7 linked regions of the Homo sapiens genome follow. The protein of the gene in region 3 purifies or fractionates together with the protein of the main gene of each other region. This does not show direct contact. Each region holds a gene or a part of one and is shown on either strand. Other genes may lie near its edges. The genes, in order: ACVR1B, SLC38A10, BSND, SMC2, NCAPD3, NCAPG2 and POM121.

Region 1 (3,500 bases), on a different chromosome or scaffold from region 3:
CCACCGTGCCTGGCCTTTTTTTTTTTTTTTTTTTTGAGACGGAGCTTTGCTCTTGCTGCCCAGGCTGGAGTGCAATGGCATGATCTGGGCTCACTGCAACCTCTGCCTCCCGGGTTCAAGCAATTCTCCTGCCTCAGCTTCCCAAGTAGCTGGAATTATAGGCGTGTGCCACTACACCCGGCTAATTTTTTGTATTTAGTAGAGACGAGGTTTCACCATGTTAGTCAGGCTGGTCTCAAACTTTTGACCTCATGTGATCTGCCCGGCCTCAAGACTCCTTTAAATGTGCCCTCCTCTGTGAGACTCTTCCCAACAATTCCTGTCTCTCTGATCCAATCCTGGGTCAGCCTTTTTTTTTTTTTTTTTTTTGAGACGGAGTCTCGCTCTGTTGCCCAGGCTGGAGTGCAGTGGCGTGATCTCGGCTCACTGCAAGCTCCGCCTCCCAGGTTCACACCATTCTCCTGCCTCAGCCTCTTGAGTACCTGGGACTACAGGCGCCGCCACCACGCCCGGCTAATTTTTTGTATTTTTAGTAGAGACAGGGTTTCACCATGTTAGCCAGGATGGTCTGGATCTCCTCTGACCTCATGATCCACCCACCTCAGCCTCCCAAAGTGCTGGGATTACAGGCGTGAGCCACCGCGCCTGGCCGGGTCAGGCTCTTTCTAATCTGTTTAAAACCATATCACCCAGAAGGTATTCAGTATATACTTATTTAAATGAATTGAAAGTCATATGAGCAGCATGGACTTACTACTTTAAAAACCACATTATTAGAAACCTAACACCTTGGAAGCTCTGCATATTCTGAATGAAGAATATACTAAACCACTCAGAGGGAAATAGTTATTAACCATTTTACCACAGACGACTAAACAACTACCATGGCCCTTCCCTTGTTTCAGCTGGTCTGGGTCTTAAAAAGACTTTGGAAAACCCAATCTACCCTCCTCTAGCAGCAAATCAATTCCCACAGTCAGCCAGGAGGTTCTAACCACTGCCCTACCTCTTTCAACAAGGAACAAGCCCTAGATTTTTGCTGTTTCTAAAAATATGCAGCTTTTAAATATATCCATCATTTTGGTGCTCTCTACTGCAGAGCTTAATAAAAGCAAAGCCACTGAAATTCAGGAGATGTCACAGCTCAAAGTACTCCCGTGTCAAGCAGAATGTCTGGGCATGACTGATGGCATAATTTCCCCACAGAACAACAGTCTTGTCCCACGTCAAGGAAACATACATAAAAACACGCAAAGTTCTCACAAATAAGATCCTCTGCGTTTTAGCTAGAATGGCAACAGTGATCTTTGTGGATGTTTTTTTTCTTTTTTAAGAATGGACTTGAAGCCAAGAATTTGAGACCAGCCTGGGCAACAAAGTGAAACCTTCCACAAAAAAAAAAAAAAAAAAAAAAATTGCCAGGCTTGGTGGCACATGCCTGACATCTCAGCTACTCAGGAGACTAAGGTGGAGGATCTCTTGAGCCCAGGAGGTTAAGGCTGCAGTCAGCTGTGATTGCACAATGGCACTGCAGCCTGGGCAACAACAGAGCGAGACCATATCTTAAAACAAAAAAAAAAAAAAAAAAAAAGGAATGCAATACCATTGTCACAAAAATAATGGTTTATCTTCATTAAAAAAATTCTTTACGAGGCAGGCGGATCACTTGAGGTCAAGAACACAAGACCAGCCTGACTGATGTGGCGAAACCTTGTCTCTACTAAAAATACAAAAATTAGTCGCTGTGGTGGCGCATTCCTGTAATCCCAGCTACTCAGGAGGCTGAGGCAGGAGAATCACTTGAACCAGGCAGGTGGAGGTTTCAGAGAGCGGAAATTGCGCCACTGCACTCCTGCCTGGGAAACAGAGCAAGACTCTGTTTCTAAATAAATAAATACATAAATAAGTAAGTAAAAAAATTCTTTTGCATTCATGTTCACATTTAATAGCTAGCTGAGCTATACCCTGAGACCTAAACAACCCCGAGCTCCTTTATCTTAAATTCTCGTCTTATGCCAAGGTCCAGTGTTTGGTTCATTTCCCTCATCTGAGAAAGACTTGGTCAACAAAAGGCAGTACAGGAAATAGTGCTGATGCTATGCTGGAGGCCCACACTGCCTTTATTTTCACCCCCACCAAAAACCCTTGGGCAACTGGTACAAGTCAATGATTCACCAAATCCCAACTCTAAGCTTTACTGGATGTCCTTAAACTCCCCTTGTGGTTGCTCAGAGATCAATGATTAGCTGTCACCACCTCACAGGAATCTGGCACACTCCTGTTTCTCAAAAGGGGCCCTGAAATTGAGCACTCCACTGCTCAGGTGGGACCAGCTGAATTTTAATAGATGTACGTACAGTTGCAAAGCTTAGAGAGGCAGGACTTCTGTAGTGGATAATTGTGTACTAGACCTTGGGAATCCCACGGAATGAGAGATTTTCTGTGAACCCATTATCTTATCTTATTACACGTCAGACTCCAAAAGAAGGGGAACTAGGAAACCAAATGACTCAATGCTGGTAGAAACAAATGCAGGGCCTCCAGCCTTCTCTACAAGCACTCTATCCTGCTGGGAAACTGATGAAAGCCAACCACAGACATGATGCCCTGAAGAACTTGGTACCTGAGCCAGACCCTGAGGTGGAGAGATCGTAGACAAGATCCTGGAGCGTCTTGTCTTTGGAGAGACACATCTCACATGAGGGATCTTCCATGTCCAGTCTCTGGCGGTTGTGATAGACACGCTGATGATAGTTAATGACAAGGAAAACAATGATGATGATGAGGAACAGGAGGAACACCGGGCCGGCGATGATGCCTACCAGCTCCACCGGGCCCCACATGGACGGGTGCTCAGGCTCCTTGAGGTGACCTGAGTCAAGTGAGAGAGGAGAGGGAAAGAATGAGAAGTAAAAACAAGGGAAAGAGTAAAAACACCCCCCTCAAAGTGAAGAGTGAAAAAGACCCCTTTCCCTGTCGATGTGTTCAGGCTCCCTTGATCTCTCTAATCTTCTGGGCTAGTCTTGCTGCCTAGATGCTCTCAAATGCCCAACTTCTTTAGTTAAGGCACCTCTTTCCACAGTCAAACCCACAACCCACTTTGTCACCTCACGCATTTCGTGGTACTATCCCCGCCTCAGGCCCCTACACAGATGCCTGTTTCTGCCCTTTAACTTCCCACAGCTCCTCTAAGCTCTGCTTTAGTTTCTCTCCTTTTCCTGTGGGCTCCACAGTAATGCCTCCTGAATGGTAGGCTTGCAAAAGGATGGTATGTGGTGTTTCTCGGCTTTGGTCACTGGCCTTTTCCTATTCTGGTCCCTCCTCACATCTAACCATCATCCTCCCTTGAGGAGTCACCTTTGCTCGGCTCTGGGGCCATCTCTTTCTGGATCAGTCCCACATCCTCCCGTGGGAATCCCTGCCTGGTTCTTCCACTCCTCACCGCTGCCTATGGCTGCTAAGCCACTACTCTAAACACTGCGGGCACCTCTGGGACTAAC
Region 2 (3,500 bases), on a different chromosome or scaffold from region 3:
CGGGAGGTCGAGGCTACAGTGAGCTGTGATCGCATCACTGCACTCCAGCTTGGGTGACACAGCAGGACCCCATCTCCAAAAAAAAGAAAACCCAGCAGACTGACAAGTGAGAAGGTCCTGCCAGCAGCTGCTGGTGTCCCGTTGCCCAGGTCCTAGCACACCATCCCATCAGGCCGCCCTCAGCATGGAGTGCCATCAGCAGCAGTCAGGGGACCCCGCAGGACATGAGCCTTCCCCTCGGCCCAGGCTAGAAGGGAGCTAAGTGGCCAACGCCTGTGCACACAGCCCCAGGAGGCTGGCAGAGAATCAGGAGAAACACCCAAGAGGTCTCCACGGCCCTAGACCCACAGCTACAGAAGAAGGCCATGTTGCGGCATGAACTTCCCAGTGCTAAACTGTCCTCTCGCCACAGCTGAGTCCACACCAGGGAGTCTTGGCTTGAGGGGACCAGCGTTGGTGCCCCATGACACGTGCTTACCCCCAGCCCCCAATACACCCTGTGGGGAGTGACCCCCAAGGAAGCCACGGACACTGTGGGAAGGGGTGTCCCACGCACACGGGGTGGCCAGGGTGGAAGGCCAAGCCCCAGGCTCCTCTCCAATCCTGACCACCTACCCCAGGGACCCCCGGGATCATCCCTGGAAAGAAACAAGGTAGGAGCCACAAAACCTCCTGGCCACCTGCAAAGGAGCTCCACAGATGGGGGACATGCTGAGCGCTGGCCCATGGCCCCAGACGGAGCATCCCTGGCCCGCCCACCTTGCAAGGCAGCCTCTGAGCCTCAGGGCCTACCAGAGTCAAATGGAGCCATCCACATGCAGCTCTTGGGTGTGTGCCCCTCTGCCCTACTGTGAGGATGGGGACCCTGGTCTCCAGATAGACCCTGACCTCCAGGGCCTCCTGGGCTCAGTGCTGCCCGGCTGCTTCTCTGGGCCTAGGACAACCATTCTGCATAACCAGGTATGCATTTACCAAAAACGGCCAGATAGTGAAGGCACAAGGGAGACCTGGCCCCAGCTGGCATCCAGGCCAATCACACAGGCAGGGGGCGCGGCCCGCCACCCAACAGGGACAGGCACTCTGGTGCAGTGACGCTGTGGGAGGGAAGAGATGTCTCTGCTCTCAGAAAACATTCCTGGGTTCAGAGGTGGGGAGGTCAGCACGGCGGCCGGCACAGGGGTGGGGAGGTCAGCGCAGCGGCCAGCACAAGGAGGGATGTCCCTGCTGGGGAGAATGTCAGGTGAATCCGTGGGCCTGCACATCCTCAGGGCGGGACAGAAGGAAAGCTGCACTTGTTGAGCCGCACGCTCCAGCGCTTCAACCCAGCACCTGACTCCGGAACCAGACCCGAACGAGGTGCACCGGCTGCTACGTGGCCACCACCAAAAAGCCCCAGCTGCAGATTTATTTCTAAATATGCAAACACGCAGACACAAAGGGCAACTGGTAACTAGGTACGTGGCGGAAGAATGCGGCTTCTGTCACCGATCATAATGGGATATTAAACAGCAAGACTGGGGCGCGTTCTGGTGGAGATGGAGCTGCCAAGAGAGACGCTAAGTGGGAAATGACGATTTGGATCTCGCATGTGGGTGTAAACACAGCGGTATGAACAAATTTCATCTGTCACATTAGTTTACGATTGGCTCAATGCATGCCCACTAACGCTACAGGGGCCGCTCTGCCAGCCCCCCGCATGCCGATGGTCTTTTCCCGTCTGCGCCGGATTTACGCCTCTCTTTTCAGCCGGTTACCATGTTCCAACCGGGCACGAATCACTCGCTCTTGTCATTTTGGTGGAGAAGGTAATGCTGCTGGAATTATGGAAGAGCCCGATCCACATTTACAGAGCCCTGCGTGCCAGAGAGAAAGCAGGCTCGCGCGCACATGCAGGCCTCCAAATGCATCCAGCAGCCGTCTGAAGTCAATGTTTGTGCCATTTCCTTTTAAATATTCTCAGAACAGCTAAATTCTGGCGAAGCGCTCGACTCTGTGCAGTCAGATGGCTGGGTTGCTGCTGCATCCCCCACAGCCAATGCTCTGCTTGTGGGGATCTGGCAAACCAGGGACTCTCACCAGCTAGTCCCAAACATGTCCCAGGAATGAAGCCGATTTACCTCCCGATTAAAATATAACTATCTCCCTCAACCTGGGGCGGGAAAGGTCATCACTGAACAAGACATCACTCTTTAGCAGCCAGCAAAGAGCGATCACAGTAAACGAGAAAGAGAGGGTCCCGTCTCCCAGCAGCTCGCCCTCCCCGTCACAGAACTCCACCACAGACCACAGCAGGACACTTACGACTGGCAGGCGAAGGACATGCCGAAGATGGGGATGCAGCGGAAGACGCCCTCCCAGCGGACGTAGCTGACCCGCCGCAGCCACTGCCCACTGAAGAGGCCGTGCTTGAGAGAGGAGAGCACGATCTGCAGAGGGAGAGGGGAGAGAGCACGGGGCAGGTCAGGACGCAGGCGGGACTCAGCATCCCGGCCCACGCGCCGCTAGGAAGGAGTGGCAGGAGAGTGCAGCTCTTCCCACCCACATCCCAGCCCCCCACCACCCTGTGCCGCCCTGTGCCGCCTTGTGCCGCCAGCTGGAGGCAGGGAGACCCCGCGCCTTTCTGGATTCCCAACCCCTGCCTCAGAGCACCCTGGTTCATCCCGCGGGCACCAGAGCAGCTGCTCTTGCAAGGGGGCTGCTTGGCGCAGACGGGAGGAGACCACTGAGCATGCATGGCCCCAGTTTCCGTCGGTTACAGAGGCTGGTTTCCCACGTGGGCAGGTCCCTCCCCATCTTGTACTGTGTTAGACATGGACATTTTCCAAAAGACTGGCCCACCAGGACGCGGCTGTCTCAAGAGTAAAGAGGTAGCTGCCACTGGGCTGGCCCTCACTCGGAGAGCTGAGGAGCACTGGAGACCCTGGCTTCAATGACCACCTGGCCTCGTCCTGGTGCAAACCCGCTGTGAGACACCCAGGTTCCAGCCACTCAGGAAGGGTCATTTCTGACCTTGCCAGGGAACAGGAAGGTCCCAGGGGCTCGGGTCCTGGGGCTCCTATGGGCAGGGGCCTGGCAGAGAATGGAGGGTGTGCTGGGGGCTCTGGGTGGTATCCGTGTTCTCAGTGCCAACTCCACAGCTGGCCCCTAGTCCATCCTATTATAAATTCTCATTTAGAAAAATAATAGCGGCCGGGCGTGGTGGCTCATGCCTGTAACCCCAGCACTTTGGGAGGCTGAGGCGGGTGGGTAACAAGGTCAGGAGTTCGAGACCAGCCTGGCCAAGATGGTGAAACCCCTTCTCTACTAAAAATAAAAAAAATTAGCCAGGTGTGGTGGCGGGCACCTGTAATCCCCGCTACTTGGGAGGCTGAGGCAGGAGAATCACTTGAACCCAGGAGATGGAGGTTGCAGTGAGCCGAGATTGCGCCACTGCACTCCAGCCTGGGCGACAAAGTGAGACTCCGTCTCAAAAAACAAACAAACAAACAAACAACAATAGC
Region 3 (4,164 bases):
CATCAGGCAGCAAATAGCCTCTCCCACTAGACCTCTAGCCCCTAAAAGACATGGACAGCTTAATGCATGTTGGTATTGGCTACCCCTCACCCCTATATCCTAATTAGCTAATTCTATTCCCTTATATTTATATCTCCCCATTTATCAAAACTTTCCATAGGTCTGGCACAGAGAGCCACGGGGAGGAGGCTGAGGGGAGGACAGGCAGGAGCACTGCAGGCAGCGTTGGCCCAGGCACCAATGAGACCAAGCAGGATCCAGGGAGCTTCGCCTCTAGAGTGTCTCCCTGGTTTATAAGGTGCTTTCCTCCCTTCCCTTATTGGAGTCAATTTGTGCTGGCTCTACCAGCCTGCATCTCTGAAACACACACTCACACACACCTGCACTCATGCAGAGGCCCACCCAGTGCCGCAAATACCAATCCTCAATCCTAAGAACAATGCCTTCACATATGTTCCATGGCAGGTGTGATGCCAGGTCTCCCCCAACACACACACACACACACACACACACACACACACACACACACACGATCCCACTGTGTTCTCCCAATCAGCCGTACAAGGCTCAGAGCTGAGGGGGAGGGACTCTTTCTGCCAAGGTCACAGAAGTGGGACATGAAGGAGCAGGGATTTGAATCTGGGCCTGGAGGTTGCCACAACATGTGCCATTTTCAGCCCACCACGCTGCCTCCACAGCACGTGAACCCATGAATCTATCAACAGTTACTCATTAATACCCAGCAATATTCCCTCCTCCCCTCCCCTCCCCTCTACCGTCACTCCCATCAGCCTACCAACCATCCCAGAGCCAGCTCTATTTAAGAGCGGGGGCAGGAAGGATGCTCCTCTCCACACCTCTGCCATCCCTCTGCTGTCCCCCAGGGTCCAGCCTCCTCACTGGGAGAAGGATTATAATAGCAGTGGTGACATGAGTGGCTTTGGCCCCAAGGACTTCTCCCAGTGACCTCTGCTCAAGGAATTGCACAGACAGAGGCAAGTTGACTGTAAACTGCCTGCTAAATGACTACAAACCAGCCCAGACCGCTCCAGCACTGAACAGAATGACAGCCCAGGGTTGGCCCGTGGAGGGGGCAGGGCTGGGGAGAGCCGGCCCAGGCCCCAGGGAGCCATCCCCCTTCTTCCCTGAAACCCTGAGCACAGCCACCCAGGTGGGAGGAGAGGAGGTGTGGGGGTTGCTGAGGACTGCCTGGACCTGGAGCCCTAGATATTAGGTCCAGCAGGGCCCCCAGATATACCCCCTTTCCCACCCCCCCCTCCTAACTCACACAGTGTACAAATGAGGAAACTGAGGCTCAGAGAGGAAAGGGGCTTGAGCAAAGTCTCCCAGGCAGTAAGAGACAGAGCCCAAGTTAGAGTCCCTATTTCCCTCCTTTTCTCCCTGGGTCTGTACCTGACCAGCTGTGTGACCTTGGAAGTCACCCAGCCTCTCTAGGCATTGAAGATTCGCAACTCCTGGCATTTCCATTCCACAGAGCTGTTGGGAGGATCAGTATGGGTAACAGTGGTAGCCCTTCATCTATAAATAACACCTTACAGTTTACAAAATATTCCTATATCTTATCTCTTCTCTGATCTTTATAATGACCCTGTGAAGCTCTGTGGAAAATAGGGGCAGGGATCTCATTTGCAGATGAAAAAAATGAGGCTCAGAAAGACAAAGGTCATAGAGAGTTTGGAACAGGACTTGAACTAGAACTCAGGACTCCCAAACCAGTGCTCTTCCCATCACTAAATTACACATAAGGCTGAGAATACATGAAGACTCTAAAGGATACTGCCCAGTGCATGCCACCAAGGTTAGACCTGACCTACCCTGGAGCTCTCAGTCGCTCTGGGACCCAGAGGTAGAAGACCCAAGGTGAAGGGTGACGTGTAAGTCACACGCATCTGAGCTCCAAACCTTGCTCGTTAGCTGTGCAGCCTCTCTTTCTGGACCTCAGAAAGGCTCAGAAGGTGGAACTACAGAAAGCACCAAAAGGCTTAGGATGAGGGCTGAACTGCACCCTGAACGCAGGAGTGCCTGGCAGGGGGTCAGCGCTCATTAGCTTTTGTTTCAAGCACATGGTGTGTTGTGTTTGCTGTGTCTATACCATAGCTTCCGGCTCAGGGCTCCAGATCCAGGGGCCTTCTGATCAACCCTTAGGCTAAGGGATGGATGGATGGATGGATGGATGGATGGATGGATGGATGGGACAGACGCTCAGGAGAGCAGAGAGAAGACCGAGTCAAAATGAGAAGAATGAAAAGACAACTAAAGGATAGGGGGTGAGGCATGGCATACAGGCACAGTGTCCAGCCCTCCTGGCCCCAGCTGACCTGGCCCCACCCAGCCCCACTACCACCTACCTTGGGGTAGCACTGGCACATGCTCCAGATGATGCCCCCGATCACCATGACGCTGCCCATGGCATAGAAGGTGCCGTAGACCTGGGGCCGATCATGGCTCATGAGGAACGTACCGAGGGCCAGCAGGAAAAGCCCCAGCACAATGAAGCCGATCCGGAAGGTCTTCTCGTCAGCCATGGCTGCCTGGCCAGTCCCTGGCCTGCACACCCCCGGGAGAGGGGGTGGCTGTAGTTCAGCCTAAACACCGAGACAGGCTTACACAGGGAGAGAAGACACTGAAATCGCTGCAACTCAAGGCTTCAAGGGAGAGCAAGATCCCTTTCAATCCCGCTCCAGTCCCTGGGCCCACCAGTTCAACAGGGCTGGAGGCGGCTCGCTTCAACGGACCCACACCCAGCCACCTTTACTCCTTGCCCTCTCACCTTCCCTCTGGGCCCGGCTGGCCTGGAGTGTGTGTGTGAATCTGAGCGAGGGAGCACACAGGGGAGGGAGAGTGGGAGGTTACCGGGGCTGGGCCCCAGCCAAGGCTTTGACATCACCTCATTTGCCTACTGTGGGGTTGAGCTGGGTGGACAGGCAGCCTCACACCTTCCAGCTCTAGAAAACAGGGTACAGTTCTGCAGCTGAGAGCTGTTAGAATGCTATTGGAGGATTCCAGGATCCCACAGGCTGGCATTTCAGAATCCTGAAGAATTCTACACTCTTCAAGGACATGTGCCTATCCAGGGTTCAGGAATAATGGCCCATATGTACTGGCTGGTGACTATGTGCAGGGCACCATTCTAAACATGTTACAGCTATTAACTCATTGAAGGGAACCCAGTGAAGCAGCTACTACTATCCCCACTTTACAGAGGACCCTCGGGCACAGACAAGTAACTTGCCCAAGGTCACACAGCTAAAGATGGCAGAGCTAGTGGGATGTGAAGCCAGAGGCCGTGGGCCTAGCCACGGCGTGATACTTCTTAACTGCAGCTTGAGGGTGAAAAGCGTGGCTCTGGTGGCAAGGCAGGCTGCCTGGGTTTGGATTCTGGCTCCTCTACTGTGGGGCAGTGTGGTCATGATCAGGTTACCTCAGTTTCCTCCTCTGTAAAATGGGAATAATAATGTACCTCCCAGATTTGGTGCTGTCTCCAGGCCTGGCCTCCTTGGGTTCCTCCATCCCCTTCACATTCACACGCTATGCACCACCCAGTTGGGCTTTCAATGAACTGCTCCCCACCCACCCCTAAGGCTCTCGGAATTAGTGCCCCTGCAGGGTGTGAGTGACTGACAGTCACTTCCTCCATTTCCTTGCAGCCTGATCTAGGAAGATGCCTTCCTAAGAATAACACTAATGAGGCATTTTAGTCCTAGGGACAGGCTGATGGAAGAAATCAGATTCCTTTACAGGATTACAGGAAAATGAGGACCATCGGTCTCTACAAGAGAATGTTCACTTGGCGTTTACATGGGGTTAAATCGCCGATGCAGGATAAAAGGCTTTCAATGGGCTCCCTGACTTGCTGGGCTTGGGGATTTCCTGTTGGCGGTCATCACCTTCTCCCCTCCTGCCAGCAGGGCTGCCCTTGTTCCCTAACCCCACACCTGTGCTCACAGCTGCCCCTCTAACTAGACGTCCTTCTCATAGGCCCTTTTTCCAACAGGGGTTTCTCCTTCCTCACACCCACCATCGCCAGCCCTCAGAGTCCAGGTGCACTTGACAGTTCGCAGAGGAGGTCCTGGAGGGAGCTCAGGGGCCCTGGCTGAGCGATGGCTGAGGGGCAGGAAAGGGCTGAGTTATCAGGTCATGTCC
Region 4 (3,500 bases), on a different chromosome or scaffold from region 3:
GTAGAGTCGTTCTCCAGCCACTAATTCTAAAGCTGTGGTTGCAGAAGTGTCTTTCACACTAATCAGAGAAGCCACAAGTCCTTTCACACAATTTCTATTCCAGTTCTTCTCTGGATCCCTGAAATACAAAAGTTGACAAAAATTAATCTTAGATAATAAAGTAGAAAAAGTTATACTTTACTCATCAGGAGCTCTTTTGGACAACACATTAAAGTGAAATGAAAGTAGAATCAGCAAAATGGTTTTAACAAACCAAAAATTTTAAAATGTCCCAAATGACTAGCCAGCTGTTGTTTTTAAATCACAATAGATCTTTCAGTATGTTTCAATGTAGTAAGAACAACTCTGATGTTCTAATCCCTATAATACATATGATTACTGTAAATATTCCATAAAAAACCCACATAGCAAAACAAATTATAAGATGTAAATGTGGATATTTAACATTAATGATACAGTAACTCTGAAGACATTTTGAACTGAGATTAAATTTCCCTCATTTTAAGATTAGTGGCATCATTAGCCATTAAATTTCACAAGAATTTCCCTGCCAACATTTAAAACATTTCAACAAATGTTTAAAGGAAAAATACCAATGAAAGAAAAGCAGCTTACAACAAGTTTCATACAAAAATCTTGGTTTCGACAAAATTTTCACACTGCTTCCAGCTTAAATAAAAATGTCTTGATTATTACTATGTTAAAATTCAAGGCTTAAGTCTCTTACTTGTATGCAAATCGAAGATTGGGAAATCTGGCTAATAGAGCTTCATATGTTTCTTTCAATCTACCAATATCACGAGACAGCTGCCTGCGCTTTTCCAAAAGGCTTTCCTCTTTATTTTCTGAAGGATAAATCATAATAAATTAAAACCAAGTTTTAAAAGCTCACTCTACTGTTTTAAGGAAAATATTAGCAACCACTATTTCCAAAGCATGCAAAAAATACAAATTTCTGTAAGTATTAAAAAAGCATGCTGAACCTTCCTATTTCTATCCACTGTCAAACAGACATTATTTCCAACGGCAAATAACACAATTTTCATTCCAAAAAATAACATACAAACTGAATGCCTAATGTAGAAATACACAAATGACATTTTTGAGCTTTCAAATGATTGAAGCAGGAAATTCTCAATACTGAGTTCTCAAAAATTCAAGAGTTGTTTTATAATTAGGTATTTTTTGACGATATTTACAACACTTCTTATACTAATGCTTGTTAATAGGCTAAGAAATGTTTCCTACTTGCTTGCGTTCTTTATTTAAATTAGCTTTTTATCAAAAATCACTACCTCCTCATGATCTGATTATCATGTTTTTAAAGGCAAACCTTCATAATTTAGCTTTTTCATTTCAGCTTCAAGTTTTTCTTTAAGTCTTTTTACAGCTTCTAGAGCTTCTTGATCCTTCCTGTAGCCACTATCCATCTTCTTAACTTCAGCTTGTTTATTCTTTAATTCCTGTTGAGCATGCTTCAACTTCATCTGAGCCTGTGGCAGAAAAATGCAACAGACCATAGGATGTATGAGGCAGACAGTGCTAGTAATTAAATGGCCGAAGATTCAGATTGGTTTTACTAAGAGACCTTAACCTTCAAAGTTTAATTGTTTGGTCTCTTGGATTAGTATTTCAACAAATTAGTCATTTCCCAGTATTTTCTCCTCAAAAAACTACTCAAAGTATAAACTAATATATGATTAATATGTAAAAGAATTTGAAATTTAAGTCCGTATTTTTAATAAAATATGACATATTCAAATTGAAGGATTATATCGAATAACTGTCAGTAGCTGGTAATTAAAAAAAGAACGCTAGAAATCACAACTCTCGTTCTTTTCCTTTCCGCTTAGTTGTTCATATTTGTATGTGTATATATTTGTGAGTGCTATCTAATAACAGTAAAGAAACTGAATTGAGCAATAAGACGTAAGATTATACAGGAAAAGAAGCTAAACTGACAGAGAAACTTAAATGCTGAGTCTGATAATTAAATGCTAGAACTATTTAAATTACATGTGTCAGGCCTTCAAGAATTTATACACTTGAACACTGCTTCTTAAAACTATGAACTAGTATTCTAAAACCTAGATGGGGTTTTAGATGGGGGTATCCTCCAAAACTGTATAATGATGTATTTTTCCCAGTTCCCTTATAAAATAATAGACAAACTGAGAGTAGAGTACTTTAAAGCTTTTCTACTATTGAGAGTTCTTATAAATTTGTGACTATCATCTGTCATGCCTGAATGAAAAAGTTGCAAATATATAAAGAGAAAAACCTGAGGATTAACGCATAATCACACACATTTGTGTACATGTTTTAAAATCTGTGTCTTCCATTAAAAACAAAACAATGATGTGCCTGTGTACATGTATTTTTTCTGCTAGCAAAATTCTTATGTTCATAGGACTGTAAGTTGCACTACTATGTAAAATCTGAGAAACATTATAATAGACTGACAAGACTTTTAAGATTATGAAATCAGAGTAGGGAGAGCAGACTAGAATGTGGCTACATGTGAGGTAGAGATACTTCCTAAAAAAATGTAAAGTTTGAGAAACAAGGTTTTAAGAACTAGGTATGGCAGGCAAAGCAATGGGGAGGACAATCCTGTTTTCCTGTTAAAGCTTAAGACTTCAACATTATGTTATCAATAAAAAATAAAAATAGCCAAAAAGAGACAAGAATAAATGCATTAATCTCGAAAATTCCACACAATGCTGCAAACAGAACAAAGCATTTATTGCACTTACATACCGAATTAAGATAATTTATGTAGTACAGCATCTTCACAAATTAACATCACCAATATTTAGCAATCAACATATTTGAATTTCGCTGCATTAGGCATTAGAGTTGCAGAATAAAGTAAACAAACAAGTTCCTTGAGACTGATTATTTTCAACATTATGTAACAATTGCCAAAGCATAACATGAAAAGAAACTTCTTGGAAAAAAAAGCAATCACATAGTGCTAATGTCTCTATTTACCTGTTTGGCTTCTGTCTGAGCTTTACTTATATCATTTTTACAGGCCATCATTTGACCAGCAAGAGTTGCTTCTGCTCCATCTTCATTACTGGACAGGCCAGCGGAAACAGCATTGAAGTGCTGCTGTGCAGCTGCCAGAGCTTCAGCATCTTTATTACTTGCTTCTTGAAGGGCATGCAGTCCATCTGTTATCTTTTTAACCTCTTTTTCCTTTGCTGCTAAAGTTTTTGAGTCCTTTAGGAAGAGTTTCAAATGGAAAAATATTATATTTCAGGAAAAACACCCACTTTCTTATACGCATACCCTTATGTAATAAAATTCCATAGCAATTTGGAGTGAGCATAATAAAATAATTTAACCATCATAACTTTATAAATACTGAATTATCATTTTGAAATTCACTCTCAGTTTTTAGAATAAATATAACTCTTATACTACTGGTTCATTCCATGTTATAAATTAAATCCATGAGACATTGGGCTAAATAATAATTGCAGATTTAAACA
Region 5 (3,500 bases), on a different chromosome or scaffold from region 3:
AAGGCCTTTTAAAAGTATTTCAGATGTTCATATCTGAGAGGTGACATTGGTGGCTACCTTTACTGTTGCTTTGCATTGGTGGGCATTGGTCGTATTAGGATGAATCTCCGTTTCAATGCATACCCAAGGAGAACGTTATCAGTTGTCAGCAATTTAGAATCTGTCTGCCTTGTCTTTGAGCCTAATTATCTTGATTTTGATTCCTCCGTGGATAATTACTCAGTTTATGATACTGACTTCTTCCTTCTTATCTTTCTTCTTGTTTTTAGGTCCTACGTTTTCTGTAATAGAGAGTCACCCTGGTACCTTACTGAGAAATTCATCAGGTAATGGATCAATACATTTTCAAATATTGAATGATTATCTTTTAAAAATTTGTGGAATATTTAAAATGTTTTTCTTACCTCCTTATTTACCTGCTTTAACATTGTACTTTTTTCATGAGAGAGGTTGAAATTCATTTCAGTAATAATGTTGTAACTTAAATGAGTAACATGCCCTGCTAATGTTATTAAAAGTATAACACATTTTTAGCTTAATGACTGTAATTTTTTTTTTAAAGCTTTTTCCTACCAAAGGCAGACATCTAACCGTTCCGAACCCTCAGGGGAGATCAACATAGACAGCAGTGGTGAAACAGTTGGATCTGGAGGTATGTCAGATTTTATCACTGTCAGATAGGTAATACTGCTGGATTTCAGACAACCGTAAGTAGAGTCTAAAACCTTGGATTTTTTTTTTTTTTTCTGATTTATTCACCCCTAAGAGTTGAAACAGCTGGCTGGGCGTGGTGACTCATGCCTGTAATCCCATAATCCCAGCACTTTGGGAGGCTGAGGCCTGCAGATCACTTGAGCCCAGGAGTTCAAGACCAGCCTGGGCAACACATCAAGACCCCATCTCTTAAAAAATATATATAAAAATCAGCTGGGCGTGGTGGTGTGCCCCTGTGGTCCCAGCTACTCAGGAGGCTGAGGTGGGAGGATGGCTTGAGCCCAGGAGTTCCAGGCTACAGTGAGCTCTGATCATACCACTGTACTCCAGCCTGGGCGACAGTCTGTTTAAAAAATTAAAAAATGAAAATAACACTGCAGGGCAGTCTGCTTTTTTGTACCAGCTTAGTTACTAAATAGCTGCATGATCTAGGGGTATACCTGTCGTTTTCCGGTTGTAACACCCTCCCATCTTTCCCAGACGACTGTTGGGAAAGTCTGTAGAAACAACATTTAAGAAAGTGATTTAAAGAGAGAGAGACACAGATAAGAGAGAGAAAGAGCATGTACGTAGAGGATTAATTACATAATTGGGTTTATTAATTTATTCAATAAACCTTGATCTGGTCCTTCCCGATGCGTTCCAGGCATTGGAGATGCACAAGTCTGTGAGACAGAGCTCCATCTCTTAAGGATCAGTGGAGAGACAGGTGCTTGTGCACACAAGTGTTCTCATATATACAATTGTGCACACATGTATGCGGAACACTGAGATAGGTGCCGAGATGCACAGAAAGCGCCCTGAGGATGATTACATTACTGCTTTTATTATTCAGCCTAGAAGGTCAGCGTGAAATTGGGTTCAGGAGGCTAGATATTAGCATGTATTACTCCAATTCAGAGCGATAACTACATTTATAATAAACAGGTTTTCTAAATGTGGTAGGAAAATGTACTCTGGAAAAATGCTGAATGTTTGTGTTGGCTCCAGACTTCGTCTAAACAGGTTACGGATTTACGGTGGCACAGACTTTTTCAAGCAATATCAAGTTGAGGTGATTTAATGATGCTTAAAAATTATGAAAGTTCGGGGACGCAAAGAGCCCATGTTTCCAGTGCATTGTTCATAAGCTGAAAGGACATATATTGTTGGCATTAATTGTACATTAAAAATTTTGTATAGTCACTTAGATGCACTTTGCTCTCTTTGCTTTTTCTTATTAAGGCAGAGTTCACACACCATAAAGTTCACCATGGAAAGTGTATAATGTAGTTGTTTTAGTATAGTCACAAGATTGTACAGACTAATTCCAGAACATTCCATCAGCTGAAAAATAAACCCCATAGCCATTAGCAGTCACTCCCCATGCCCCTTTCCTCCTAACACTGGCAACCAGTAATTTTCTTTCCTTATAAAATTGCCTATTCTGGGCCAGGCGTGGTGGCTCACACCGGTAATCCTGGCACATTGGGAGGCCGAGACGGGAGGAGGATCACGAGGTCAGGAGATCGAGACCATCCTGGCCAACATGGTGAAACCCCGTCTCTACTAAAATACAAAAAATTAGCTGGGCGTGGTGGCACACACCTGTAGTCCCAGCTATGAGGAGGCAGAGGCAGGAGAATCGCTTGAACCCAGGAGGTGGAGGTTGCAGTGAGCCGAGATTGCGCCACCGCACTCCAGCCTGTTGACAGAGCGAGACTCTGTCCAAAAAAAAAAAAAAAAAATTGCCTATTCTGGACATTCCGCATAAATGCAGTCATGTACTGTGTTGTCTTTTGTGTCTGACTTCTTTCACCTATAGCGTGTTTTCAAGGCTCATTCATGTTATAGCATCTATCAGTACTTCATTCCTTTTTGTGCTGAGTAATAGTCAGTTATAAGGATACACCACATTTTGTTTATGCATTCATCAGTTGATGAACATTTGGGTTGTTTTCACTTTTTGGCTATTGTGACTAATGCTGCTGTAAGTATTCTTGTATGAGTTTTTGTATAGATGTGTGGTTTCATTCCCTCTGAGTGTATACCTAGGAGGAGAACTGCTGGGTCGTATGGTAACTCTATATTCAACATTTTGAGGAACCACCACACTTTTTCAAAGTGGCCACACCATTTTACAATCCTGCTAGCAACGTATGATAATCCTATTTCTCTGCATTCCTACCAACACTTGCCATGTCTGTCTTTTTTATTTTAGCCATCTTTGTGGGTATGAGGTGGTATCTGCTTGTGGTTTTGATTTACATTTCCCTAATGGCTAATGATGTTGAGTAAATTTTCATAGGCTTATTGGCCATATACATACGTTTTCTTTGGAGAAATGTCTATTCAAGCTCTTTGCCCATTTTTTAATTGGGTTATCTTTTATTTTTGAGTTGAAAGAGTTATTTTTATATATATACCTTATCAGATATATGATTTTTAAAGACTTGTCCCAGTCTGTGGGTTGTCTTTTCAAATGGTATTCTATGAGGCACAAAACATTTTAATTTTGATGAAGTCCAATTTATCTTTTTCTTTTTTTACTCATGCTTTTGGTATCACATAGCTAAGAAATCGTTGTGTAATCCAAAGTCACAAAGATTTACTCCTGTGTTTTCTTCTAAGGGTTTTATAGTTTTAGCTCTCACATTTAGGTCTTTGATCAATTTTCAGTTAATTTTTGAATATGGTGTGATATAGGGGGTCCACCTTCACTCCTTTGCATGTGACTATCCAGTTGACATAGCACTGTTTCTTTCAGCCTGTTCCTTCACCTGTGAGTGTCTTGGCACCCTTGTAAA
Region 6 (3,500 bases), on a different chromosome or scaffold from region 3:
GGTTTGCAACCATGCATTTAAAAACAAAGTTGAAATAATCTATAGATGTTTCATTAATTGTTTCTTGTATGTAAAATGGAGTCAGAATCCCCACAGCAGTCAGGACACATGGCACTGGAGCACAGGCTTGGGTTGACCGTGGACACCAAGCACTGCCAGGCAATGAAACGTGCTCACTGGGCAGTGTGCTATGCTGGTGAGCAAACAGGACGTGTGCTCTTCCTTTCCAGCACCCACAGTTCTGAGCCTATTTCTCTATTACACAAGAAAACAAGATAAATAAAAACTATGTGACCTACCAAGATACTCTACTACCATGACATTTACCTACTACCTCTAATAACCTGAAGCCTTTAGAAAAACCTCACTTTCCCACTCCCCTGCCCTACATCCCTGTCCCTCAAGGCGAGACTCTTCCTCCTCACGTCCTCCCCAGCCCCACCTAGGCCGCGGCTTTGGCTGAGAGCACTGAGTACTTTTCCTTGCCAGACGTTGTCCTCACTTCCCTGGCAGTGTGCCTATTTTAAGAATCATTATTAGACAGGTAGCATATCACTGTTCCTTCAAATACACATATTTACAAAGTGCGTGGCTCACCATGGCTTCCCTTTTTACTGTCCCACAACTCCTGCATGGCTCCAATGCTTGTTCCATTACAGGGCACTCCAAAGCAGTCTCCTCAGAGAAGCAATAAAGAAAAGCTCATCTCTGAATTCCTCCTGGACACAAATATCTACCTTTCACTCCAAATGAATCTCAGCGAGATTTAAAACTCTTACAATCCTATTGTCTTCCTGTGTCCAGCACTGCAAGTGAGACTCATGTCTACCTGGTCTTCACCTTTGGAGACAGACTGCTGTCTACCACAGCCCCTGTAATGTCAATGCCAGTCACATGCGTCATTTTACATTTTCCAGTAATCACATTGAAACAGGTCAAAGGGTACAATGGATCAAGACCTTGCTTCTTTTTATTTTTTTAAGCAAAATTCATCTTAATATATTTTATTTAACCCAACATATCCAAAATGCTTCAACTTGTAATCAATATAAAATTATTTATGACATAGTTCACATTCTCTTTTCCATACTGTCTTCAAAACCTGCTTGCACTTTCTATGAGGGCCACACTCAGCTTAGACTCACCAGGTTTCATGTGTTCAGCAGCCACTGTATTGGCCTGCATGAATCTAGAAAAATTTTAAGATTTTCTCTTTATTCCTGGAATTTAGGAATCTTATCCATAATTATTTAGCTGTGATTTTTTTTTTCCATCAATCCAGAATGTAGTGAAAGAAAAAAGGGAATCTGCATATATTTCTTTAAGCTCTGGGGAATTTTTTCCTATCGTTGTTGAATCACTGCTTCTCCTTGCTGTTAGGTCTCTCGGGCCTTTTCCCCCAAGTCTATCCCCACCCTCGTGACCTCTCCTCGTGAGTATTTATGGTCTATGTTCTGAGACATCTCTCCAAATTGACCTTTCTGGAATTTGACTATCACAGGAACCATCTCTGTAGTGTGTCTGTGACACTTGAGCTCTAGACTGTCCTTTCGGGGTTACAGTTGACTCTTCTTCAAAGACTCTTATTACTCACCCACCACTATCACTCTGGAAGCGCCTGGGCCACCCTCTGTGTGGTTATTTCTGCCTGTGTTGAACCAGGGGTGAGGGCACAGCTATGTGGAGGCTGCCATGCAGCGACACAGGAGACTCTGGGTGCCCCACAGCCCCTTCACTCTCCCAGCCTCGCTGGGCCTCTACTGGACCTGCTGCCTCAGGGTCTCCTGCCCATTCCCTGAGTCCCCCAAGGAGAAGAGAGTGCTCTCTGTCCACAGACCAGGTTCCGCCCACCTGTCAGCCCAGCAACTGCCTGGCTCAGCAGCAGTGCAGCCAGAGGCAAGACAGAGGAGAACAGGCCCAGGAAGTCATGAACCCTCCAAAATCTAAAATTAATTTTTTTTTTTGAGACAGGGTCACGCTCTGTCACCCAGGCTGAAGTGCAGCAGTGAGGTCACAGCTCACTGCAGCCTTGACCTCTCGGGCTCAAGCAATCCTCCCAGCTCACCCTCCCAAGTAGCTGGGACTATGGTGCACACCACCACACCCAGCAGATTTTTTTGTATTTTTTGTAGAGATGGGGTTTCACCATGTTACCCAGTCTAGTAGTGAACTCAGCTTAAGCAATCTGCCCGCCTCAGCCTCCCAAAGTGATGGAATTACAGACACCATACCTGGCCTAAAATTAATTTTTAATTACTCAAAAATAATATTGTCTCCTTAAGTGAACATGAATTTAAAAATACTTTAGAGAAAAATGTTACGTTAAAAGTACAGTTAACCCTCACTATCTGTGGGAGATGTGTTCCAGGACCCCCCAGATACTAAAATCCACAGATGTTCAAGTCCCTGGTATAGTGTTTGCATATAGTCTACCCACATCCTCCTGTATGCTTTAAATCATCTCTAGACTACTTATAATACCTAATACAAGGTAAATGCTATGGTAATAATTGTTATACTATATTGTCTATATACTATATCGTCTATATTGTTATACTATACTAATAGTTGTTATACTATATACTATATTGTTTATCCTATACTGTTATATTATATTAGGGAATAATGACAAGGAAAAGTCTGTTCATATTCAGTACAGGCACAACCATCCATTTTTGTCCCAAATATTGTCAAACTATGGTTGGTTGGATTTACGAACGTGGAACCCATGGATACGGAGGGCCAAGTGTTCTCATTTACCAGGTAGTAAAGAGCTACTTACACTGACCTAAGTCTAGACTGGCAACAAGAATGACTCTTTATCGTTATCCTGTAACAGATAAGCTAACTGAGGCAAAAGTGGTAAAGCAAACTGCCCATGACCACTCAGATGGGAAGGGCAGTCTGGGTTTAAACCCAGGCCATTTTTCTCCTGCTACTGGAACACTACTGCAATACAAATTTACTCATTCTTCTATTACCTGAAGCAAGAATTGAACACACTATGTAAATCAGAGAAATAAGAACTACTAAAGAACAAATGAAGAAAACAAAATGAAGGAATTTTAAAGTTGGAAGGGACAGTGACAAAAAGCTTAGACAAAAAGCTCCCTGGGCCAGGGTTCTCCTGATATGTAACAAGACACACAGACCAGACCATGTGCAAGTCCCCTCAGCACTAACGTCTGTAAAATGTGTCAAACACGAGGACTCAAAACTTCGCCACCTTTCCTTCTATGTCAGGTTAGGATCACATGTTGGTGATCACAGCCACAAGAAACACAGCAGAATCAATTTTTTGAGAAAAACCGTAAGATAAAAAGACAGTGTCTGTATTTATTAAAGGGTGGTTTTACACATGAATACTTTTAAATTATCCACACCAATTTCATTGGGTATGGATGATGGAAGCATACCACTAAATAAGCTATAAAAAGCATCCAGCCTCAAATTCGTTTAAAAAAAAAGACTGTTAAAATTAAAGCAGAATAAAATGAATT
Region 7 (3,352 bases), on a different chromosome or scaffold from region 3:
GCAGCTGAGCCAGACAACCGAGTCTTCATGCCTGGTGCCCCAGCTCAGCCTGCTTCTCCCACCCGCTAATGGCCACGCCAGGGCAGAGAAAAAGCCCCCCTGCCCCGCAGCCACCTCGTGGGCCTCCTGACCATCGCTGCAGAGGGGAGTACTCTGGGGCCCCCGCCTCCTAGCGTACCTGGGTTGGCTACCTCCTCTGTTCAGGCCTTTTCCCCCAGCCACCGTCCCCTCCCCTCTGAAGCCTGGTTTGTCCGTCCCGCGTCTTTTGTGATGCCCCGTGGTCCCCTCCCTTCCCCGGCCTTGCCCTGACTGGCTCTGGCTGCCTGCCCGAGGCCCTCTCTGGCAGCCCCTCTGCAGGGATGGCTGCTCTCAGGGCTTGGCCTCCGGCCCGGACAAGAGGAAGCTCCCTGTGCTCCCACGCTGCTTCCACACTGTTTCTCTTCCTTCCCTAAATACCGTAACTCAAGTTCAGATCACTTTAATCTGCCATGTCCTCATGTCACCTGTCAACTGCCAGGTCACTCCCTGATTCACAGAGGACCCTTGGCTCACTGGCTTCCTTCCCATCACCACTCACGGTGACTTCGCCCTGTGAGGCTGACTGATGGTCCTCTCAGCCCCTCAACCCTGCCACCCCCATGACCTCCTCTCCCCGACCCCTGCCACCACTCCTGCAGCCACACTGTCACCACAACTGCTCCGGCTCCCGAATCTCCTGTAGGCACCACCCCTCCTGCAGCTGACTTCACCCGCTCTCCACTCCTGCACCCCCTGAGCTGCATCGGGGCACTGACCCGCTGCCCCTCCTGCTGTGCTTGCTGGGGTCTCCATGGCCGGGTGGCACCAGCTGTCCGCTGACCTTAGGTCTACACCCACAGTGTCGCTGGGAAACACATGCCATGCTAACTGGCCTCACTTTAACTTCACAATCACAATTTTCCAGCCCACAAACTGCCTGGAAACTGATCACACTTTTTAATATGATGTTCCTTTCCCCCACTGTCCAAAATGACTATTTCAAAAGACCCCTTTTTTTATACACTTTATCCTGACCCTCTCTCTCCCAGATTTTCTCTACTTCACGAAGCAAACAGAAGCCATGGGATCTACATTCATCTTCCACATGGGAGGAACCATCACTGCATCCTTCTGCCTGATTCTGCAATGGTTTTCCTGAACACTTAAGACCCAAACACCCAACCCTGGCCACAAACAATCCTTGCCTCTTGGCCTCCTTCCACACCACTGCTTTAGCTCCTGCCCTCCTGCCATGCTTGTCTTTGTTCTGCTCTTCAACATACCAAACATGTTTCTGCCTCTGGGCCTTTGCATGCGCCATCCTGGGCCTGAAAGGCATGTCCACTTGTGCTGTGCCCACCCCCATATTCAGCTTACGGTTTGTTTTTTGAGACAGAGTCTTGCTCTGTCACCCAGGCCGGAGTACAGTGGCATGATCTTGGCTCACTGCAACCTCCAACTCCTGGGTTCAAACCATTCTTGTGCCTCAGCCTCCTGAGTAGCTGGGATTACAGGTGGGTACCACCACGCCCGGCTAATTTTTTGGTATTTTTAGTAGAGACAGGGTTTCGCCAAGTTGTCCAGGCTAGTCTTGAACTCCTGGCCTCAAGTGATGCACCCTCCTTGGCCTCCCAAAATATTGGGATTACAAGCGTGAGCCACTGCGCCCAACCTTCAGCTTACAATTGTTAACTACTCAGAAGGCCTTTGACCAGTTAAATCCACAATGGCTCCTCCAGTCATTACTACGTTAGCAAAACATGTATCGTTCCCTGGCATCTCACTGAGTTCTATATTCAGTGCCTGTCTCTTCACTGCCACAGCATAAGCTCCCCGAGACCACAGGCTTCGCAGGCACAGCTTTTCAGTGTCCGGCCCGGTAGCCCAAGTCCACGCCCCTCCTTACCTCCAAACACAGGTTTGCTCTCAGTTGTGCTGCTCACGTTGAAGGCAAACGGTGTGCTCTGGCCGGTGGTGCCCAGGGCGTTCTGACCTAAGCCCCCTGCGAAGGGGGTGGAGGTGGCTGTGCTCCCACTCTGTCCTGCTCCAAAGCTGAAAGCTCCGGTGGTGGTGCTGGAGCCTGGGGTGGCCACATTGATCCCAAAGCTCCCACTGCCAGCGGGGGCTGCCGAACCCCCAAACGTGAAGGGTGATGGTGTTGTGCTGCCAAACACCGAGCTGCTGCTCCCGCTGCTGGCGGTCTGGGTGGTGGCTCCAAAGCCGGAGCTGGTGGCTGCACCGAAGAAGACAGCAGTGGAGCCGCCAAAGGCGGGCTGTGAGCTGGCGGGAGCGCCGAAGGCCGAAGCCGTGGCTTTCAACCCAAACGCCGAGTGCGTGGCACCGCCAAAGATAGGATGGATGGGCGTAGGCACGTACGCAGGCACGACCTTGATCATGGACGGAGGTGCAGGTGTGGGTGCAGCAGCCGGGGCTGCAGAGTTTCCAAAAGTGAAAGAGCTGCCAAAGCTGGGGGCAAGGGCCGGCTTGGCGGCCCCCGGTGGCTGCCCCTCAGCGGCCCCAAATGCGGGCTGGGGGTTGGCTCCCGGATATGATGGGAGCGGGGACTTGGCGCTTGAGCCAAAGGGAATGTTGAACGTGGGGGTGCTCGTGTTACTGAACGTCAGAGTGGGCTGGCTGCTGGTGGCCGGGGCGGAGGTGGCGAGGGTGCTGCCAAAACCACTAAAGTCGGCAGCGCTGCTGCTGGTGGCCGTTGGCACGGCAGTGTGCAGGGACTGGCTGAAGGTGGTGACTGTGGTGGTTGTGGGCAAGGCAGGAGGTTTGCCAAACTGGAATATGGAGCCCATGGCCGGGGTGAAGCTGGCAGCAGAGGCCTGGGGCGCCCCGAAGAGGAAAGGCTGTGAGGCGGCAGTGGCGGTGCTGGTCGTGGTACTCACACTGCTGCTGCTCACACTGTTTATGCCAAAGCCAAACGCAGGCTTCGAAGCAGAGTCTGTGGATGGACTGGCAGAGGTGATGGGAGCCACAGCAGAGGTGGCGCTGGCCAGGCCAGTGAAGAGCGGGGCAGTTGTGGTGGGAGCAGTGGCGGGAGTAGTTGTCTGCTTGAAGAAGGGAGCAGGCAAGGGCACAGATGCAGGTGGCCCCATGCTGCTAAAGACAGGCTGGAAGGTCGGGGCTGTGGTGCTGGTGGTCGTGGGGAGGGAGGAGCTGGAGGGCGCTGTGGCTGTGACTGAAGGGCCAGGCGGTGTGGGGCCTTCCTTCTCACTCTTGGGTGGAGCCGTGAAAATGGGCTTGAACATGGGAGGTGCTGAAGATGCAGCAGGGGCGGCAGGGCTGGAAGGTGAGGTGTTCTGTGTTCCAAACAGGAAGCTTTGCT

Evidence for each region.
Region 1: the proteins of BSND (region 3) and ACVR1B purify together in Homo sapiens (affinity purification with mass spectrometry; one large-scale study listed by BioGRID and IntAct). This does not show direct contact.
Region 2: the proteins of BSND (region 3) and SLC38A10 purify together in Homo sapiens (affinity purification with mass spectrometry; one large-scale study listed by BioGRID and IntAct). This does not show direct contact.
Region 4: the proteins of BSND (region 3) and SMC2 purify together in Homo sapiens (affinity purification with mass spectrometry; one large-scale study listed by BioGRID and IntAct). This does not show direct contact.
Region 5: the proteins of BSND (region 3) and NCAPD3 purify together in Homo sapiens (affinity purification with mass spectrometry; one large-scale study listed by BioGRID and IntAct). This does not show direct contact.
Region 6: the proteins of BSND (region 3) and NCAPG2 purify together in Homo sapiens (affinity purification with mass spectrometry; one large-scale study listed by BioGRID and IntAct). This does not show direct contact.
Region 7: the proteins of BSND (region 3) and POM121 purify together in Homo sapiens (affinity purification with mass spectrometry; one large-scale study listed by BioGRID and IntAct). This does not show direct contact.

The regions. Positions count from the first base shown.
Region 1 is NC_000012.12:51,975,699-51,979,198, reverse strand, and holds part of ACVR1B (activin receptor type-1B isoform a precursor), read right to left. Parts: intron 2,873-3,500; coding exon 2,624-2,872; intron 1-2,623. UniProt on the Homo sapiens protein: Transmembrane serine/threonine kinase activin type-1 receptor forming an activin receptor complex with activin receptor type-2 (ACVR2A or ACVR2B).
Region 2 is NC_000017.11:81,278,308-81,281,807, forward strand, and holds part of SLC38A10 (solute carrier family 38 member 10), read right to left. Parts: intron 2,427-3,500; coding exon 2,302-2,426; intron 1-2,301. UniProt on the Homo sapiens protein: Facilitates bidirectional transport of amino acids. May act as a glutamate sensor that regulates glutamate-glutamine cycle and mTOR signaling in the brain. The transport mechanism remains to be elucidated.
Region 3 is NC_000001.11:54,997,569-55,001,732, reverse strand, and holds the start of BSND (barttin), read right to left. Parts: upstream 2,801-4,164; 5' UTR 2,547-2,800; coding exon 2,370-2,546; intron 1-2,369.
Region 4 is NC_000009.12:104,111,309-104,114,808, reverse strand, and holds part of SMC2 (structural maintenance of chromosomes protein 2), read right to left. Parts: intron 3,229-3,500; coding exon 2,995-3,228; intron 1,494-2,994; coding exon 1,334-1,493; intron 846-1,333; coding exon 728-845; intron 119-727; coding exon 1-118. UniProt on the Homo sapiens protein: Central component of the condensin complex, a complex required for conversion of interphase chromatin into mitotic-like condense chromosomes.
Region 5 is NC_000011.10:134,199,968-134,203,467, reverse strand, and holds part of NCAPD3 (condensin-2 complex subunit D3), read left to right. Parts: intron 1-269; coding exon 270-326; intron 327-562; coding exon 563-652; intron 653-3,500.
Region 6 is NC_000007.14:158,631,805-158,635,304, forward strand, and holds part of NCAPG2 (condensin-2 complex subunit G2), read right to left. Parts: intron 1-3,500. UniProt on the Homo sapiens protein: Regulatory subunit of the condensin-2 complex, a complex which establishes mitotic chromosome architecture and is involved in physical rigidity of the chromatid axis.
Region 7 is NC_000007.14:72,942,095-72,945,446, reverse strand, and holds part of POM121 (nuclear envelope pore membrane protein POM 121), read right to left. Parts: coding exon 1,925-3,352; intron 1-1,924. UniProt on the Homo sapiens protein: Essential component of the nuclear pore complex (NPC). The repeat-containing domain may be involved in anchoring components of the pore complex to the pore membrane. When overexpressed in cells induces the formation of cytoplasmic annulate lamellae (AL).